Linked DNA regions of Homo sapiens: regions 1, 3 and 4 are each linked to region 2. The links come from fine-mapping of genetic effects on gene expression. A gene starts in region 2. Each other region holds a variant in brackets. All regions are shown on one strand. Distances are from middle to middle.

Region 1 (5,000 bases), 56 kb before region 2:
CTCCAACCTGGGCAACAAAGGCGAAACTCAAAACAAAAAAAAAAAACCCCAAAAACTGCGTTATTGAGATATAATTCACATACCATAAGATTCCTTTATTTAAAGTGTATAATTCAAAGCTTCCTAGTATATTCACAGACCTGTGCAACCATCACCCAACTGAAGTTTAGAAAATTTTCATCTCTCTAAAAGAAACCCCGTTCCTATTAGCCATGACTCTCCAGCCCACCCCACCCAACCCCAGCCTCTGGCAACCGCAAATCCACTGGCTGTCTCTCCGAATGTGCCTGCTCCAGACAGTTCACAGAAAGGGAGTCATATAATCCGTGTACTTTGTGTACACTGTTCTCAGGTTTACCGCCATGTTCCAGCCCTTCACTTCTTCCTAATCCCTGGATAGTATTGCATACATGCATCCACACTGACTCCTGAGCAGTTGTGAATGTCTGGCTGGATGGTTAGGATGGTTAAGGACTTGGAAATGAATGGATTGGGAGCAAGGTGTCTGGGAGTTCTGGGACCAAGTACCAGATGGACAGCTGTGGGGATAGCTGTGCCGGGCGGGTGTCTCTGAGGTCTGTTCGCTTCAGAGGGGCTCTCGGTGCTCAGATCTCCACAGCTGCCCCCTCTGCAGGCATCATCAGCCTCTTTTCCCAGCTCTCCCGTGCATGTTTGATGGGCTCCAAGTGTGGAGTGGGGGAAGGGTGGAGGCTGGGCATGGACGGCAGCATGGACCTCCCCCTCCAGAGCTGACCTGTGCACTGCCACTGCTGGGCACCTGACCTGCTGATTAAAAAAAAAAAAAAAGAACCTGGCCCTGAGCTCCCAGTAGGACACCATCACCTGGGGAAGCAGCCAGCCAAGTGGCAGCAGGTTGATGCCATTGGACTTCGTTCCCCATGGAGGAGAAGGGGGCTCGGCCTCATTGGAATAGACACGGTTGCTTTTCCTGCACACAGTCCTTCTGCCAGCCCTGTCATCCATGCCAAGATGCTTTGCCAGCTGCCATGGTGTCCCGCACAACATGGCTTCCAAGCAAGAAACTCACTCCTGAGCAAAAGAAGTTACCGGACTGACTACAGGCCCCTTTCCCGAAGTGCCGCCTGATAAAAGGAATGGACAGGCCACGTGGTTAGCGTGCTGTTACCAAGTGAGGACAGTGACGGCACCTCTGGAAAAACGCCATCATGGAAGTTCGAGGGCCTCATCTGCAGATTAAAGTGTATGCTTTGAACCAGAGACAAACAGATCACGCTGTCTTCCCAGCAGCTGGACGACATGTGTCCAGGAACCAGGGCTCAGAAGGGCAGTGGCTCCTGTGACTGGTACTTCTGATAAGCCTTTAACTTGGCAGCCTGCCCACCCACAGTGGCGGGCTCTGATGGCTCAGAAGTCTTGGTTCTCAAGCAAGGAATGTTTCGACCAAGGAATTCAATGATGGTTCCTCTGATTTGGAAAATGAGACTACCACTTGGCAATTTGGTGTCCTCATTCCACTGCATCAAAACACCGAGAAGCAGGGCCAGGCACGGTGGCTCACGCCTATAATCCCAACACTTTGGGAGGCCAAGGCAGGAAGATTGCTTGAGTCAAGGAGTTCGAGACCAGCCTGGGCAACATGGAAAAACCCTGTATCTACAAAAACAAAATTAAATACAAAATTAGCTGGGCATGGTGGCGCATGCCTGCAGTCCCAGCTACTAGGGAGGCTGAGGCAGGAGGATCGTCTGAACCCAGGAGGTGGAAGCTGCAGTGAGTCATGATTGAACCACTGTACTCCAGCCTGGGCATCAAAGCAAGACCCTGTCTCAAAAACAAAACAAAACCAAGAAGCACGTGACTTTACCAGCTGGGATGATTGATGCCTAATGCCAAGTAGAAAGT[G/C]AGTCATGGCTCTACACTGAGGCTCAGTGTATGTGGGAGCCCAGGGGATTTTCTGAGGTGCGTTTTAGTATTTCTACCCAACAGTAGAGGCTAATAGAAAGCTATAGCAACATGAACATAAACATATAAAGGGCAGGGTAATCTCGGGTTCATGCCCCTGGGGAGCGAAAGCATAAGTCAGCCTGCTGGCTAAAGAACCCCAAGCAGATGAGATGCTGCTGGCTGGTGGAGGAACCCTGGAAATGCCCACTGCGGGATACACTGTGGCCTCGGGACTGTGATACACCGCGGCCTCCGGACAGCGAAACACCGCGGCCCCGGGACTGCGAAACACCGCGGCCCCGGGACTGCGATACACCGCGGCCCCGGGACTGCGAAACACCGCGGCCCCGGGACTGCGATACACCGCGGCCCCGGGACTGCGAAACACCGCGGCCCCGGGACTGCGATACACCGCGGCCCCGGGACTGCGAAACACCGCGGCCCCGGGACTGCGATACACCGCGGCCCCGGGACTGCGAAACACCGCGGCCCCGGGACTGCGAAACACCGCGGCCCCGGGACTGCGATACACCGCGGCCCCGGGACTGCGATACACCGCGGCCCCGGGACTGCGATACACCGCGGCCCCGGGACTGCGATACACCGCGGCCCCGGGACTGCGATACACCGCGGCCCCGGGACTGCGATACACCGCGGCCCCGGGACTGTGAAACACCGCGGCCCCGGGACTGTGAAACACCGCGGCCCCGGGACTGTGAAACACCGCGGCCTCGGGACTGTGATACACCGCGGCCTCGGGACTGTGAAACACCGAGGCCTCGGGACTGTGATACACCGCGGCCTCGGGACTGTGATACACCGCGGCCTCGGGACAGTGAAACACCGCGGCCTCGGGACTGCGATACACCGCGGCCTCGGGACTGCGATACACCGCGGCCTCGGGACTGCGAAACACCGCGGCCTCGCGACTGCGATACACCGCGGCCCCGGGACTGCGATACACCGCGGCCCCGCGACTGCGATACACCGCGGCCCCGCGACTGCGATACACCGCGGCCCCGCGACTGCGATACACCGCGGCCCCGGGACTGCGATACACCGCGGCCCCGGGACTGCGATACACCGCGGCCCCGGGACTGCGATACACCGCGGCCCCGGGACTGCGAAACACCGCGGCCCCGGGACTGCGATACACCGCGGCCCCGGGACTGCGATACACCGCGGCCCCGGGACTGCGATACACCGCGGCCCCGGGACTGCGAAACACCGCGGCCCCGGGACTGCGATACACCGCGGCCCCGGGACTGCGAAACACCGCGGCCCCGGGACTGCGATACACCGCGGCCCCGGGACTGCGATACACCGCGGCCCCGGGACTGCGATACACCGCGGCCCCGGGACTGCGATACACCGCGGCCCCGGGACTGCGATACACCGCGGCCCCGGGACTGCGATACACCGCGGCCCCGGGACTGCGATACACCGCGGCCCCGGGACTGCGAAACACCGCGGCCCCGGGACTGCGATACACCGCGGCCCCGGGACTGCGAAACACCGCGGCCCCGGGACTGCGATACACCGCGGCCCCGGGACTGCGAAACACCGCGGCCCCGGGACTGCGATACACCGCGGCCCCGGGACTGTGAAACACCGCGGCCCCGGGACTGTGATACACCGCGGCCCCGGGACTGTGAAACACCGCGGCCCCGGGACTGTGATACACCGCGGCCCCGGGACTGTGAAACACCGCGGCCCCGGGACTGTGATACACCGCGGCCCCGGGACTGTGATACACCGCGGCCCCGGGACTGTGAAACACCGCGGCCCCGGGACTGTGATACACCGCGGCCCCGGGACTGTGAAACACCGCGGCCCCGGGACTGTGAAACACCGAGGCCTCGGGACTGTGATACACTGCGGCCTCGGGACTGTGATACACTGCGGCCTCGGGACAGTGAAACACTGCGGCCTCGGGACTGCGATACACTGCGGCCTCGGGACTGCGATACACTGCGGCCTCGGGACTGCGAAACACCGCGGCCTCGGGACTGCGATACACCGCGGCCCCGGGACTGCGAAACACCGCGGCCCCGGGACTGCGAAACACCGCGGCCCCGGGACTGTGATACACCGCGGCCCCGGGACTGTGATACACCGCGGCCCCGGGACTGTGAAACACCGCGGCCCCGGGACTGTGAAACACCGCGGCCCCGGGACTGTGAAACACCGCGGCCCCGGGACTGTGAAACACCGCGGCCCCGGGACTGTGATACACCGCGGCCCCGGGACTGTGATACACCGCGGCCCCGGGACTGTGATACACCGCGGCCCCGGGACTGTGAAACACCGCGGCCCCGGGACTGTGAAACACCGAGGCCTCGGGACTGTGATACACTGCGGCCTCGGGACTGTGATACACTGCGGCCTCGGGACAGTGAAACACTGCGGCCTCGGGACTGCGATACACTGCGGCCTCGGGACTGCGATACACTGCGGCCTCGGGACAGTGAAACACTGCGGCCTCGGGACTGTGAAACACTGCGGCCTCGGGACTGCGATACACTGCGGCCTCGGGACTGCGATACACTGCGGCCTCGGGACTGCGAAACACTGCGGCCTCGGGACTGCGATACACTGCGGCCTCGGGACTGCGAAACACTGCGGCCTCGGGACTGCGATACACTGCGGCCTCGGGACTGCGAAACACTGCGGCCTCGGGACTGCGATACACTGCGGCCTCGGGACTGTGAAACACTGCGGCCTCGGGACTGTGAAACACTGCGGCCTCGGGACTGTGATACACTGCGGCCTCGGGACTGTGAAACACTGCGGCCTCGGGACTGTGATACACTGCGGCCTCGGGACTGTGATACACTGCGGCCTCGGGACTGTGAAACACTGCGGCCTCGGGACTGTGATACACTGCGGCCTCGGGACTGTGATACACTGTGGCCTCGGGACTGTGATACACTGCGGCCTCGGGACTGTGAAACACTGCGGCCTCGGGACTGGTTGCAGGAACAAGGCTTGTATCAACTCCGTAGATTCCCTTGCCTATTAAGTATGTGTATGTTTGTATCTAGCTATTCCTTTTTTTTTTTCAATTAAGATGG
Region 2 (5,000 bases):
CTGTAATCCCAGCTACTTGGGAGGCTGAAGCAGGAGAATTGCTAGAACCCGGGAGGTAGAGGTTACAGTGGGCTGAGATCGTGCCACTGCACTCCAGCCTGGGCAACAATGCGAGACTCCATCTCAAGAGGAGAAGAGAAAAAAAAAAAAAAAGGAACCTGCCTAGGACAGGAACCCCGTCAGGTCAGTTATACTTTGATGACCGGTCAAGGAAGCAAGAGGAGGATCCTCTGACCAACTGCGTTAACTGCTTTGAAAACCAAGAGACCCGCAGCACGACTTCAGGCATGCCCCCACCTCCCAGGCAGCAACGCTGGGAAGAGTAGGCCCCGGTTCCCCATACCCCGCCCCGGTACCGTGTGTATCCACAGCAAAACATGGCTCTTCCCATCGACAACTGGGCATAGCTGTTGGTTTTGTGCCAATCACCCCACTTGGGAAACCCTGAGCCACCATGCCTCAGGGAAAGTGGTGGCACTTCCTGGTGGCACCAGGAATCGCACAAGGCCATCACTGCCGCCTGGTGCACAGGGCTCCCGCGGCTGGCATCTCCAGAGCCTGGAGGAAGAGGGTAGAGGAAGGTAGCACCGGCTGCAGCAGGCCTGGCTGCTTCGCTCTGCACACCCCCACTTTCACTTTCTGGGTATGACTACTTCGGAGTGTAGGGCAGGCACTGTTTGCAAGTCCCGTCCTTCATTCAAAGCTCACTCACTTCCGAAGCAGGCGCGAGCTGTTGTCAAAGGAAAGTAATTACTCTACTTTCTAAAAACAAAACAAAAATAAAAATGGAGTGACTGCCCACTCGGAGAAAGCTTTTGAAATCCCTCCTCCCCGGATGTCCCAACGGCAGGGCTCAGGCTGGAGCTGCTCCCACAGTCTTTCCAGGCACCCGGTGCCCTGCTGAGGCACCGGGCCTCTGAGGCTACCCGGAAGGTCAGAAAGAAATGCCCCTCGCTCGCCTGCAGCCCGTCCTGTTACAGCGTGTGCCTTATCTTTCATGATCAGTAACCACCAGCACCCATCAAGGCCTCAACAGAGAAAACGGCAAACACAGACCTTTATTTGCAAATGAGAGGCTGCATCAGGGCTGCCAGGGAAGAACCCGGAGGGAGGGCTCCCTAACCCCCGAGGCCAGCCCCTTGCAGGGGTTCAGACCTTCCTTAGACCCCGTTGGAAGCCAGTAACAAACTACTTTCCCCAGAAAAATGCCATACAACTTTGCATAGATTCCAGGATCTCCCCAGGCATACTACATGGACCCAGGAAAAAAAAAAAACCCTCCATTTTAAAGAAAAGAGTAAGGGGAAAAGCCTACAAAAGAGCAGGGTAAAAAGAAAACTCTTTTCCTCTTCTGTTCCTTCTCACAGGGTAGGGCGGGGGAGGACGGGACACACGAAGCTGCCTCTTGCAGTTCCAGCCCAATTACTCTGCCCACCAATGCACTACAGTCTCCCCTCCTGGTTAACTTTTGCAGACAATGACCAAGTTTAATGTAAGGGGGAGAAATCCCAGTATCTATTTCTGAGCAGAAAGCTTTCAACCAAAATTAAAGATCGCAACCACTCAAGGATTGGGTCGAACGGAGGAACCCACACGATGGACGCCGGGTCCCTGCCCCCGGTGGGTCTCGGCGGGCCGAGTTCTCGCCCTCCAGGGAAAGGAGGCCGCGCGAAGCCCCCATCCCGGCCCTGCCCCCGAACGAGCAACCGGTGGAATAAGACTTCCCGCACGCCCCAGCTTTATTCACAGAGAGCCCACCAGGGCCATGTGGGTGTACACGGTTCGGGGTGCGCATTTCTCCCCGGATGGGCTTGTATCACGTTGTCACTCCGGCGCCCCCCAAAAGTGGGAAGGAGGGGAAGCACCCCCGTCCCTCCCGCTCCAACTCGCCCTCGCCCGGATTAAGCGATTTTCAGGCTGATTTCAAAACGGGAACTGGGTCTCCCCCTGGTTTGGGTGCAATAATCCGGCAACTCAGGGGGGCTCAAAGTCAGCTCTGGGCCCGTAACTCTGGGAGGAGGCCGCGCAGAGCCCAGGGCCGAGCCCGGCCTTGCCCCCCGCCCCGGCCGCGGCGCGCGGCGACGGTCCCCAGGCGCGGGCCCCAGCAACGGCTCGGGAGCGAGGCCGGCGGAACAGGCGCGGGGAAAGTGGCCCCGCGGAGCGCACGGCCGCAGGCCGGGGCCGCCGCGCGCACCTTCCCCCTCCGCGTCCTCCCTGGGTTCCCCCTTCGAAAGATGGCGGGCGGAGGAAAGGGGGAAAAAAATCCCTTCCGTGAGGGAGGGCGCGCGGAGGCCGGGCTGGCGCGGGGCGCGCGGGCCGCGCCAACTCCGGGCTGCGCGCCCCGGCCGCAGCGACGCCCCGAGTCCGGGACGGAGGCGGCCAAGCGGGAGCGGGAGGAGGGGAGCGGAGCCCGCGCCACCGCCGCCGCCACCGCCGCCGCGACCCCGGGCGGCCGCCGCGCTTTGTTGCATCGTGGCCGCGCACAAAGGCGGCGGCGGCGGCGGCGGCCCCGGGCGCCCGGTTCACCCGGACGCGCCGGCGGACTGCGCGGGGCGCTCGGGGCCGCGCTCCCCGGCCCAGCCCGGCCCGCCGCCGCCCGCGCCGCCCGCCGCCCCGCGCGCGCAAGGAAGCAAGAGAAAGGCGTACTTGGCCTCGCGGCTCCGGCGGCCGTCCCCTCCCGGCCCGCGCGGCCGGCTCCTCTTTGGCTCGCCGGCCCCGGCAGCATAATAGACGCGCCGGAGCCGAGCAGGGCTCATGCGCTGCGCCGCGGCGCCTGGCGGGAGTCGTAGTCCGCGGCCGGGCCCGCGCCGGGGCCGCCCAGGGGAGGCCGCGGGCGCGCGGACTACATGTCCCGGCCCCGCCGGCGCCGCGCCCCGCCCCGGGGGCCCCCGCCCGCCCCGCCGACCCGGCCGAGAGCGGGCCTGGCCCGGGGGGCGCGCGGGGGCGGGGCTCGGCGCCCGCCCGGCAGGGCAACAACGCTGGGACCCCGTGGGCCGTTCCCCGCCCGGGCCCGCACGGCTCTCCTCACCCCGTGTCGGGGACAGCGCCTGGCGGCGGATTTTCCGGTGCCCCAGGACGGCATGGAAGAAGCGGGCACGCAGCCAGCACCGCAGCCCCCGTCCGGGCACCCCGAGGCCCGCGGGAGCCACCCTCGAACCCCGGCCGCGCACGGGCGGGGCGGCGCGCACCTGCCGGGAGCCCGTGTTTGTAAACAAACCGCGCGCCTAATTAGCCTGGCGGGAGCGCGCGCGCGGGGCGGGGGGCGGGGCGTCGGTGCGCGCGGGCAGGTCGGCCCCGCCCGGGGAGGAGCCGCGCTCTGCCGCGCCCTCCGTGTCACCATCTCCCCCACCCGACTTGCTGGGGCGCGGGCGCCCAAGTTCGCTGTTGCTGGAGAGGGCGCCAAGTCCCCAGAGCTGGCGAAGAGTTAGGGGTGCTCCCAGCTCTGCCTGGGGACCTTCTCGCCCCAAGCCCCGGTTTCCCCATCTGCCCAGTGAGGGGCGGGAACTAGATACCAGGTTCCCAGCCTGAGATTCCGGGAGAGGGCCACCCCTGGCCCTTTTTCTGTATCTTGAAAGGTTCAGCCCGTGGACACGTTTTGCATCTTGTTTTGGGTGATGACGACTCGGGTTTACACATAAATCAAGTTGTGGGGGGGGGGGTTTTGTTGTTTTTTTGGTTTTTGTTTTTTTTTTTTTTTTTTGAGACGTTAGTTTCGCTCTTGTCACCCAGGCTGGAGTGCTGTAGTGTAGTGAGTGGCTCGATCTCGGCTCACTGCAACGTCCGCCTCCCGGGTTCAAGCCATTCTCCTGGCTCAGCCTCCCGAGTAGCTGAGATTACAGGCACCCGCCACCACGCCCGGCTAATTTTTGTATTTTTTAGTAGAGATGGGGTTTCACCGTGTTGACTGGGCTGTTCTCAAACTCCTGACGTGAGATGATCCGCCCACCGCGGACTCCCAAAGTGCTGGGATTACAAGCGTGAGCCAACGCACCCGGCCACATAAATCAATTTTAATCCAGCTGTAACTTAAGGTGGTTACACGTTGTGTACATTAGACCCCAATAAAAACGTCAAAAACAAAACGAGGTTCCTTGGTGCCTGCTGAACCTGCCAACTGCAAGGTCGAGTTTCCTTGTGTGGGCTGCACCCACCCCAAGCCCCTGGGGTCCCCAGGTGTGTTCCAAGTTGAGCAGCAGCTCCACTGCCTGAAATGCACACATCTATGCAATATTCACAAAGTGAGTGCCAGCACAGAGACAATTCATCCCCATGCTCACCCAGAAGGCAGGTGTTCTGTTCCAGGCTGACAGGTAAGGAAACAGGCTCAGTGAGGCAAAGGGTCCTGCCCAAGGTCACAGAGCCAATTTGCAGGACGGCTGAGACCCAAAGCCCCGGGGTCTTAGGAAGAGTTTGCAGGGGAAGCCAACACCTTTCCCAATCCTGTCCCTCTGTTTCTGCTGGGAGCCCAGGACCTTCTCACACTCCAGGGCAAGGCTCTAGGACGAGGTTCCAGCCTTGCCTTTCTAGTTGGCAAAATGGACAAAGTGCAGTCCTCAGGCGCAGGAAGGTCGGGGAGGGGGAATATGAGAGGTGAGGATCTGCAGGCAGTTCCCTTAGAACTACCATCCTGGTTGTGTCCCCAAACCCCCGGTGCAGTTCCTCAACCTACAGGCTTCTGTGTTAGCCACCTTGGAGGCTGCAACCCATTCCTGCTGTCTGCATCTCATCTCCTTGGGTATCTTGAGCACTCTGACCACCAGGATGGCCACCTCACCACTTACACAGACCCCACTGCACTCCTCCCAAGGCTAGAACAAAAAGCCTTTCCGCCTGGTCTTGACCTCAAGGAACCCAGGTACATGCACACAGCAGGCTGCCCTGACCAGCCAGCGTGTCTGAGGCTGCTGACCAAATGCCCCCAACCCTTATGGGCCTCCCACTGCCCTAAGGTGACCCCCAGGAGTATGGCAGGAACCCAGGCGCTCCCTGGGCACTGGCTC
Region 3 (5,000 bases), 25 kb before region 2:
CTTCAATGCCCAGAATCCAGGCCAGCCCCGCAGACAACTGAGCAGCATCACCTGGGCCCCCGGACTTCCCAGCACAGGTCTCATCAGGCCCTCTGTCTCCCTGCCCCCATCACCCTGGTTTCCAGGTGGCCAAGGCACAAAGCCCCCAATCCCAGCACTGCTGCTACATGAGCCCCCATGGCGTGCTGAGCGCTGGGCTCTTGGAGCCCGAGCAGGTCTGGAGCCCACCTGCCGGCCGTGGTCGTGCTGTTGGCCTTCTTGGCAGGAGCCTTCTTCTGCTGAGCCTGCTTGGCAGGCGGAGCCACCTTGGCCTTCTTCTCTTCCTCGGCCTTCACTTTGTGCTTCTCCTTCTCCTTCTCCTTGTCCTTCTTCTTCTTCTCCTTCTCCTTCTTCTCCTTCTTCTTCTTTGGTTTGTTTACTGGGGCCTGAGACAGGGCGGCCAGCTGCTCGTGCACGGCCTTCAGCTGGAAAAGAGCGGGCGGCTGAGCAGGTGCTGGGCACGGCCCACACCACTGGGGCTGCGTGGCGCCCTGGGATTGGAGGGGGCTTGGGGCGATGTCGGAGCTGCCTCAGCTGGGTGAGGAGGTGAACCAGGAGCACCTGGGCCCTGCTCTGCCCCTCACTCCCGTGACCCCCAGTGAGTCATGAGCCCTCTCCGCCTCGGCTTCTTCGCCTGCAGTGGGGAAGAGCTGCCTGGCCACAGGCTCAGCACTGCGCGGGTGGCACAACAGGGACTCGGTGAGGGCAGCTAACTTTTTAAAAAAAATGTATTATACTTTAAGTTCGGGGATACATGTGCAGAATGTGCAGGTTTGTTACATAGGTATACATGTGCCACGGTAGTTTGCTGCACCCATCAACCCGTCATCTACATTAGGTGGGCAGCTAACATTTTTATTATTACCATTGTTCAGATAAGGAAGGACTCTCTAGAAGTTTAAATGCCCACACAAAGGAGATTTTCATCAGTGATTTCTGGGAAGCCATTTGATAACACGCAGGACTCCGGGGTTAAAACAATCCACTGCCAGCAACCAGCATTAATCCAGGGCCTCCCTGCAGCTGGCATTGTGCCAAGCGCCTCGCCCTCCCCACTGCAGCCACCTCCATGGGAGAGGCCCCTTGAGAGGCACTGCCCATGTGAGTCCACGGCCTGTCCCTGCCTCTGGGTGGTCTGTGCAAGGAAGACAGAGGGCGGGTGGAGGAGCTGCCACCTCACAGCCGTCTTCCCTGCTGTGTGTCCTTGCCACTTCAAAATCAAATGTCCAGCCCAACTCTGGGGACTGCAGGGCCATCGCTGTCCTTGCAGCCCTGATTCATGCTGTTCCCCTCCTGACTCGACAGCCCTGCTCTATTTTCTCCCAATCTGGGGTCCCAGAAATCATGCATCTGGCTGGCTGCCAGAGGTCTGGGGAAACAATTCACATCTTTCTCAATCTGACCTCAAGACAGCTCAGAGTGGGTGACATTTGTCCCATACTGCAAACGAGGAAAGCAGAGAAGGGGGAGGAAGCACAGCCTGGCAGCGGGACTGGGGCTGGGCAGCTGCACGGCAGGGCCCTCAGGACCCTGGAGCCTGCACCCCACCCCACTGCAAGTGACTGCTTGGAGCCCAGGCACTACTGTGGCCTCTGCAAGTGCCTCACAGGCCTTTCTGGAGCAGAGCAAGGCACACATAACCACACATGACCCCTGAGCTCCCACCTGAGGCCCGCCAGGTCTCCAGAAACATCCCAGCCACGTGTCCCCGCAGCCACCCACGTGTGCTGTGGGTTAGGCTCGCACCACCCCAGACCTGGGGAGGGCACTCCGAGTGTCTTTACGGGGAAGCACTACCGCGGCTGCTGAGGGACAGGGGCAGAGGAAGGAACCATGCAAAGGGACGGACCTTGGGCTGCTGTGCCAGCAATCCCGCCTCAGCCCCTGAACCCCACCCAAGCATGCCAGTGCCCACCTGCTCCTGCAGCTCCGCCAGCCTGGTGGCCCGCTCCTCCTCCGAGTCCGAGCTGCCTGAGTCCGAAGAGCTCTCCTCACTGCTACGGCTGCTCTCAGCGCCCTTGCTCACCATGGGGGCCGCGGGGGCAGGCAGCGCCGGTGCCTCCACGGGCTCATCTGGCATCTTGGCAAACCTCATCTCAAACACGTCCTGCGGCAGAACAGAGGCTGCCCTGAAGACATGGGTGCCCATGGGGCTGCCCCTTGGTGTGGGCCCTCAGGGTTTCTGAGGTGCCCCTGAGGCAGCACCCACAGCTGTTACGAAGGTGGGGCTAGGAGGAGACAGGGTCCCGCCTGCCTGGGGGGCTGTGGTTGCTTCCAGCTTGCCCACCCTCCCTCCCCAGGCAATTCCTGCGGACAGGCCTGGGAAGAGGGGACACAGGAGCTGGCCCACAGCTCCCTTCAGCAACTCCATGAGCCCTCTCTAGAAGATGCATGCATCCTTGTAGCCTCCTGGCCCAAAGCTCCCTGGGGCTGCCTCTGCTGTGAAACGGGAAACAGTGTCTTCCCTTGAGCTTGGACAGGGTCCTCCACAGCCACAGGAGTCCAAGAGTGTTGACCTCTTCCCATCTCTTCACCCCGGAACTGACTGCAGCATCACATCTCATGAACGGTGAACTCCAAAAGTTGGCTTAAAAGGCCAAAGTCTAGTCCTATCCATACTTTATTTACAAAAAAATATAAAAATTAGCCAGTCATGGCAGCACATGTCTGTGATCCTAGCTGCTCGGGAGGCTGCGATGGGTGGATTGCTTGAACCCAGGAGGTCGAGGCTGCAGTGAGCCGAAATCATGCCACTGCACTCCAGCCTGGGTGACAGAGTGAGACCCTGCCTCAAATATATATACACACACACACACACACACACACATATATATACACACACACACATATACACACACATATATATACACATATATACACATATATATACACACATATATACACATATATACACATATATACACACACACATATATATACACAAATA[TACACACAC/T]ACACACACACACACACACATTTTTAAGTTTTACTTTTACTAATTTTCTTTTTCTCTCAAGACAGAGTCTTGCTCTTTTGCCCAGGCTGGAGTGCAATGGCATGATCTCAGCTCACTGCATCCTCCACATCCTGATTTCAAGTGATTCTCCTGCCTCAGCCTCCTGAGTAGCTGGGATCACAGGCATGCGCCACTACTCCCGGCTAACTTTTTGTATTTTTAGTAGAGCCGAAGTTTCACCATGTTGGCCAGGCTGTTCTTGAACTCCTGACCTCGTGATCTGCCTGCCTTGGCCTCCTAAAGTGCTGGGATTATAGATGTGAGCCACCACGCCCGGCCTACTTTATTTTTTGTAGGGACAGGGTCCTGCTCTGTTGCCCAGGCTGGTCTTGAACCCCTGAGCTCAAGTGATCCTCCCACCCTGGCCTCCCAAAGTGCTGAGATTACAGGGGTAAGCCACCACACCCAGACTTCCTATCAAAATTGACTTTGGAAAGCCTTTGGACCAGGACCTAGGCCCTCCGTCACCCCTCTCAGCAAACATCCCCCTCCCTGGGGCAGCCCAGGCTCACTGAAGACAGGGAGGCACAGTGATGTGGAAATGAGGGGAGATTTCTTTTTGCCAAGCTCAGAAACCTGAATCCACACCGTCTGCTCACGTGACATGCCTTCACTGTTCAGGCTGGACCCAGCTCTGGAGAAGCCCACCCCAGGCTCTCATATCCCAGGCTCTCCTCTCAGGAGATGTCCCCAGAGGCAACCCAACCCACAGAGCAGCGGTCCAGGCCCCCGCTCGGCCGACAGCCTTGAAGGCCATGCAGGTCAGGTCGTTTTGCTGTTGGGCTCTAACCCCACAGCTCAACTGATAAAATTGCACAATTGCTAAATAGTGCTCAGTCATGGAAATCCATCAGCCTCAGGGTCTCCTCTGTTGCCCAGGCTGGAGTGCTGTGCAACCACAGCTCACTGCAGTCTCCAACGCCCGGGCTCAGGTGATCCTCCCATCTCACTTTCCTGAATAGCTGGTACTACAGGGACACACCACCACACCTGACTCGTTTTTAAAATCTGTTGTAGAGACAGCTCGTCTCAAACTCTTGGCCTCAAGTGATCCTCCCACCTCCGCCTCCCAAAGTGCTGGAATTACAGGCGTGAGCACCATGTCTATCCAACAGCACCTGTTTCAGGAGCAGGGGCAGAGCTGCCAGCTTCCCTGCTCGGTCTGCAAGCCTGGGTTTCCGTCCTCTATGCTCAGCTCCCTCGTTAAACTCAACCCAGTATTTACCAGGCTCCAGAGGACTGGCCTTTGCAAGGTCTTTTGGGTTCAAGACACAGTAAGCGAGGTCTCAGTATAAAACCAGGGTTCTGACGGCTTCCTCTGGATGTAGTGGGACCTCCAGGACCACCCTGCCATCATCACCCACAGGACCCAGTGCACAGAGAGGGTGGCAATGGCAGCAGTGCCTGGGAGAGGACCTTGGGTAGGCCCTGTGCGCGAGAGGGTGGGAAAGGCAGCAGGACCCACAGGGGGAACGAGTTTCTCTCTCTGCCCCTTTTATGGGTCCTGTGTCATCCACAATAATACCATGGGCTGCTCGGGGATTTCAAAACAGTCTATGCAAGGACTGAGAACATCTTAACATGACATTCTGGGTCCCGTGAAAAGGAAAAGCATGCTGGAAGAGAACACATACCCATAATTCTCCCCTTTCCTCCAAAAATCAAGTCCTTTGATTAACATTTATAACAGTGGTGCTGTTATTTATAAAAGCAAACCACCTGCGATCACAATTAGAGAAGGTAAGAATAGATTCTGGCACATCCACCCACACCAAAATATGTGTGCGGGACCTGGACTTTGGCAGAAAAATGCACACGCAGGCAGGAGCACACACACGCACACACGTCCACACACACACACAAATATCTCTGTGAGGTTTGTGCATGTTCACAAAGTCCCTGCGCTGAGAGCTAGACCAAGACACTCCTGTTTTCCCTGAAGACAT
Region 4 (5,000 bases), 47 kb before region 2:
GGCATGGTGGTGGGCGCCTGCAGTCCCAGCTACTTGGGAGGCTGAGGCAGGAGAATGGCGTGAACCCAGGAGGCAGAGTTTGCAGTGAGCAGAGATCACGTCACTGCACTCCAGCCTGGGCGACAGAGACTCTGTCTCAAAAAAAAAAAAAAAAAAAAGATCAGACCCACCTGTATTAGACTCTCATTTAATTTCTCCTAAATCCGGGAAACGCCTAGAAAGGAAAGGCCAGGCTCCTAATAGAGATTCTTTACAGATGCAAATTTCCCCCACAGAAGACGGCTTTGCAGGGCCATTCCAAAATATGTCAAAGAAATGTATTTGGGGGCTGGGCACGGTGGCTCATGTCTGTAACCCCAGCACTTTGGGAGGCCGAAGCCAGTGGATCACCTGAAGTCAGGAGTTCGAGATCAGCCTGACCAATATGGTGAAACCCCGTCTGTACTAAAAATACAAAAATTAGCTGGGCGTGGTGGCGGGCGCCTGTAATCCCAGCTACTCAGGAGGCTGAGGCAGGGGAACTGCTTGAACCTGGTGGTGGAGATTGCAGTGAGCCAAGATCGTGGCACTGCACTCCAGCCTGGGCGACAGAGCGAGACTCCATCTCAAAAAAATAAAGAAATATATTTTGAGGTAAAATATTTTCCTTTCCTTCAGGGTCTGCTATCTGTCATGTGGTGCTATACAAGGGTCTGGTTGGAATTTGGTATCTTGTTGCCATAAAGAGTCTGTTTTGGCAGGGCGCGGGGGCTCACGCCTGTAATCCCAGTACTTTGGGAGGCCAAGGCAGGTGGATCACGAGGTCAAGAGATCGAGACCATCCTGGCCAACATGTTGAAACCCCATCTCTAGTAAAAATACAAAAATTATCTGGGCATGGTGGCGCACGCCTGTAGTCCCAGCTACTCGGGAGGCTGAGGCAGAAGAATCGCTTGAACCCAGGAGGCAGAGGTTGCAGTGAGCTGAGATCACGCCACTGCACTCCAGCCTGGCAACAGAGACTCTGTCTCAAAAAAAAAAAAAAAGTCTGTTTTGTCAGTCTCACGACCTCTATTTTAATGATGCTGGCCAGTGGTGCCTAAACTCCAAAAGGGAGAGGGGAGAACGAGACATGTCCAGCCTCCCTTCTTGTCATGGCCAGGAATGCTGTTTTTCAGGTTTCTCTGGGGTCCCCTTAGCCAAGAAGGGGTCTGTTCAGTCCACCAGGGGCTTAGGATTTTTATTTATTTATTTATTTTTTTAAAGCTTTTTTTTTTTTTTTTTTTTGAGACGGAGTTTCACTCGTCTCCCAGGCTGGAGTGCAATGGTGTGATCTCGGCTCATTGCAACCTCCACCTCCCGGGTTCAAGCAATTCTCCTGTCCCAGCCTCCCAAGTAGCTGGGATTACAGGTGCCCGCCACCACACCCAGCTAATTTTTGTATTTTTAGTAGAGACAGGGTTTCATCATATTGGTCAGGCTGGTCTCAAACTCCTGACCTCAGGTGACCTGCCCACCTTGGCCTCCCAAAGTACTGAGATTACAGGCGTGAGCCACCGTGCCTGGCCCTTAAAACTTTTTTGAGATAGGGTCTCACTCTGTCGCCAAGGCTGGAGTACAGTGGTGCAACCACAGCTCACTGCAGCCTTGACCTCTCGGGCTCAAGCATTGCTCCCACTTTAGCCTCCCAAGTAACTGGGACTTCAGGTACACACCATCATGCCTGGCTAATTTTTTGTATTTTTATTTAAAAAGGGGTTTTACCATGCTGCCCAGGCTGATCTTGAACTCCTGGGCTCAAGCAATCCACCCGCCTTGGCCTCCCAAAATGTTGGGATTACAGGCATGAGCCAACATGGCTGGCCAGGATTTTATTTTTGGTTTGCAACCTAAAAGGAAGAAGCTGAGGAAAAATTAATGTAAGTAGAGAGTTTATTTGGGCCAAGCTTGAGGGCTGCAACCCGGAGCATGCAAGTTGCCCTGAACATCCACTCCAGTTAGTAGCGGTTACTAGAGGATTTTTAAAGGAAAAGAAGGGGAGTTCCTGAATTGTTTACCAAAAATTTACATTAAAATAACAAGCTATTGATTGGCTATCCATTGTTTTTTATA[C/T]ACATATTCCAGGAACATGAAGACAATGGGTGGGGCAGCTAGACAGGAACAAAAAGACTTTTTTTTTTCCTTTGAGACGCAGTCTGTCTCTGTTGCCCAGGCTGGAGTGCAGTGGCGCAATCTCAGCTCACTGCAACCTCCGCCTCCCGGGCTCAAGCGATTCTCCTGCCTCAGCCTCCCCAGTAGCTGGGATTACAGGCACCCACCACTACGCCTGGTTAATTCTTTGTATTTTTAGTAGAGACAGGGTTTCACTATGTTGGCCAGGCTGGTCTCCAACTCCTGACCTCGTGATCCACCCGCCTCAGCCTCCCAAAGTGCTAGGATTACAGGTGTGAGCCACCTCGCCCAGCCCTGTCTTATTAATTTTAATAATTTGTCTGAGATTCTCCTGAATTTGTACTGTTAATTGAAAAAAGAACCCCACAATATCCATAAATACTCTGTTGCCCAGGCTGGAGTACAGTGATGCAATCATGACTCGCTGCGACCGCTGCCTCCTGGGCTCAAGCAACCCTCCTGCCTCAGCCTCCCAGGTAGCTGGGACTATAGGTGCCTTTCACCATGCCCAGGTACTTTTTGTAGAAATGGGGTTTTGCCATGTTGGCCAGGCTGGTCTTGAACTCCTGAGTTTAAGTGATCTGCCCGCCTTGGCCTCCCAAATTGCTGGGACTACAGGTGTGAGCCACTGCGCCTGGGTGACTTTCTTTCTCATAAAGGGTTACAGCCAGCAAGGTGGCCATCCCACAGGCTGGAAAATGTGCCTCTGAAGGAGGAGGGGTTGGGGCAGGAGCTCCATGCTGAACAGGTTGGCTAAACATACACATTCAACAGGTTATAGGAGGAGCTATGAATATTCATGAAGGTCCTGACAACATGCATACTGAACAAACATGCATGTAACATACAACTCATGTTCACCTTGGGGTGGAGACTTAGCATCAAAATGTACTAAAATTAGGCCTTATAGGCTGGGTGCAGTGGCTCGCGCCTGTAATCCCAGCACTTTGGGAGGCTGAGGTCTGGCCAATACGGTGAAACCCAGTCTCTACTAAAAATAAAAAAAAAACTAGCTGGGCACCGTGGTGCACACCTGTAGTCTTAGCTACTTGGGAGGCTGAGGCAGGAGAATCACTTGAACCCAGGAGGCGGAGGTTGCAGTGAGCCGAGATGGCACCACAGCACTCCAGCCTGGGCAATAGTGGGAGACTCCGTCTCAAATAAATAAAAATATATACATACATAAAATAAAATTAGGCCTTATAGTAAAAAGGTCTTTCCAGGACACAAAAGCACACAAGTATGCAGCCTCTCTGAACCAGCCGGAACCAATCCATAGTCAGTGGTCTTACCTGGAGAAAGTTGCTGAAATCAGTCTCTTGTTCAATGAAAGCTGTAGTTGGCTGGGCATAGTGGCTCACACCTGTAGTCCCAGCACTTTGGGAGGCCACGATGGGAGGATTGTTTAAGCCCAGGAATTTGAGATCAGCCTAGGCAACATGGCAAAACCCCATCTCTACCAAAAATACAAAAAGTAGCTGGGTGCAAACTCCACCTCCCGGGTGGACCTACTGGTACACCTAGTGGTGCACACCTGTAGGCCCAGCTACTTGGGAGGCTGAGGTGGGAGGATTGCTTGAGGCTGGGAGGTTGAAGCTGCACTCAGCCAGGATTGCACCACTGCACTCTAGCCTGGAGGACAGAGTGAGACGCTGTTTCAAAAGAAGAGAAAGCTAGTTATGGTGGGTGAATGGGGTCAGTTAGCATCTGGAGCTGGATGAGCTGCAAATCGTTTTAACATTGTTTATCTTGAGGTCAGTACTTACTTAGCTGCTAGAGAAAAGGAACAACCTCGTGGCAGTGAGAATAGAGTTTATTCTTTAATTGTAGAGGTGTAGGACTTAACTTGTGCCTGGCATGGCCCTAAATCTTATTAATTAATTAATTTATTTATTTTTGGAATCAGAGTCTCACTTTGTCACCCAGACTGGAGTGCAGTTGTGCCATCTTGGCTCACTGCAACCTCCACCTCCTGGGTTCAAGTGGTTTTCCTGCCTCAGCCTCCCAAGTAGCTGGGATTACAGGCATGCGCCACTATGTCCAGCTAATTTTTGTATTTTTTGTAGAGATGGGGGTTCACCATGTTGGCCAGGCTGGTCTCGAACTCTCAGCCTCAAGTGATCTGCCCGCCTTGGACTCTCAAAGTGCTGGGATTACAGATGTGAGTCACCATGCCCAGCCACAGGTCTTATTTATAATTTGGTATGTTATCGCCATAAAGAGTCTGTTTTTCAGTCTTCTATGTTTTCAGTCTTACATATTTTAACGCAAATGCTAGTGCCTTGTCTCTAAGTCACCAAAGGGAGGAGTTATAACGACATGAGTGGGCTCTCCTATCCCATCGTGGCTGGGAACTCAGTTTTAAGTTTTTTCTGAGGTCCCCTTGGCCAAGAGGGGATCCGTTCAGTCAGTGAGGAGTTTAGGATTTTATTTTTAGTTTATATTCCCTTCTTTTGGCCAAGATTTGCCAGAGATGGCATTGATGACCAAACTTTTATTTTGTCCTATATCGTTGCTGGGGCTGTGTGCTACCTGCACTGGGTCCATCTTGTCCCTTGGTGGGATCCCTATGGCCAAGAGACTTAGAGCCAAAAGACTGAAAGACAGCTAATTAAATGTTTTAGGACAGATAGGAAAGGAGATGGGCAGGCACTCATTCACCCTTAAAAACCTTTTGTGCAGCCAGGTGCGGTGGCTTATGCCTGTAATCCTAGCACTTTGGGAGTCTGAGGCGGGTGGATCACGAGGTCAGGAGTTTGAGACCAGCCTGATCAACATAGTGAAACCCTGTCTCCACTAAAAATACAAAATGAGCCAGGCATGGTGGCACATGCCTGTAACCCTAGCTA

Direction of the effects. Positions count from the first base shown, and alleles are read on the strand shown. Sizes are in standard deviations (SD) of each study's normalised expression. Not every link is listed here.
As copies of C replace G in region 1, the expression in monocytes after interferon gamma of the gene that starts at base 2,728 in region 2 goes up (moderate effect, 0.44 SD a copy in Fairfax 2014).

Evidence for each region. PIP is the estimated chance that this variant, and not a neighbour inherited with it, causes the effect.
Region 1: its variant is the best candidate, but not a certain one, in a credible set for the expression of BRD3 in monocytes after interferon gamma (Fairfax 2014, PIP 0.70).
Region 3: its variant is the best candidate, but not a certain one, in a credible set for the expression of BRD3 in whole blood (INTERVAL, PIP 0.88).
Region 4: its variant is the best candidate, but not a certain one, in a credible set for the expression of BRD3 in blood mononuclear cells (TOPMed, PIP 0.89).

The regions. Positions count from the first base shown.
Region 1 is chr9:134,009,734-134,014,733 of GRCh38, forward strand. No RefSeq gene overlaps it. Among named protein-coding and RNA genes, the nearest start is that of BRD3OS, 13 kb to the right of the region's middle. The variant G/C (reference allele first, on the strand shown) is at 1,885.
Region 2 is chr9:134,065,299-134,070,298 of GRCh38, forward strand. It overlaps BRD3 (bromodomain containing 3), which reads right to left and starts at 2,728. Exons shown (of 12, transcript NM_007371.4): 1 at 2,647-2,728. RefSeq lists silencers at 2,174-2,423, 2,604-3,333.
Region 3 is chr9:134,039,806-134,044,805 of GRCh38, forward strand. BRD3 (bromodomain containing 3) reads right to left here. Exons shown (of 12, transcript NM_007371.4): 8 at 1,955-2,146; 9 at 229-464. Among named protein-coding and RNA genes, the nearest start is that of BRD3OS, 17 kb to the left of the region's middle. The variant TACACACAC/T (reference allele first, on the strand shown) is at 2,987.
Region 4 is chr9:134,017,842-134,022,841 of GRCh38, forward strand. No RefSeq gene overlaps it. Among named protein-coding and RNA genes, the nearest start is that of BRD3OS, 5.1 kb to the right of the region's middle. The variant C/T (reference allele first, on the strand shown) is at 2,092.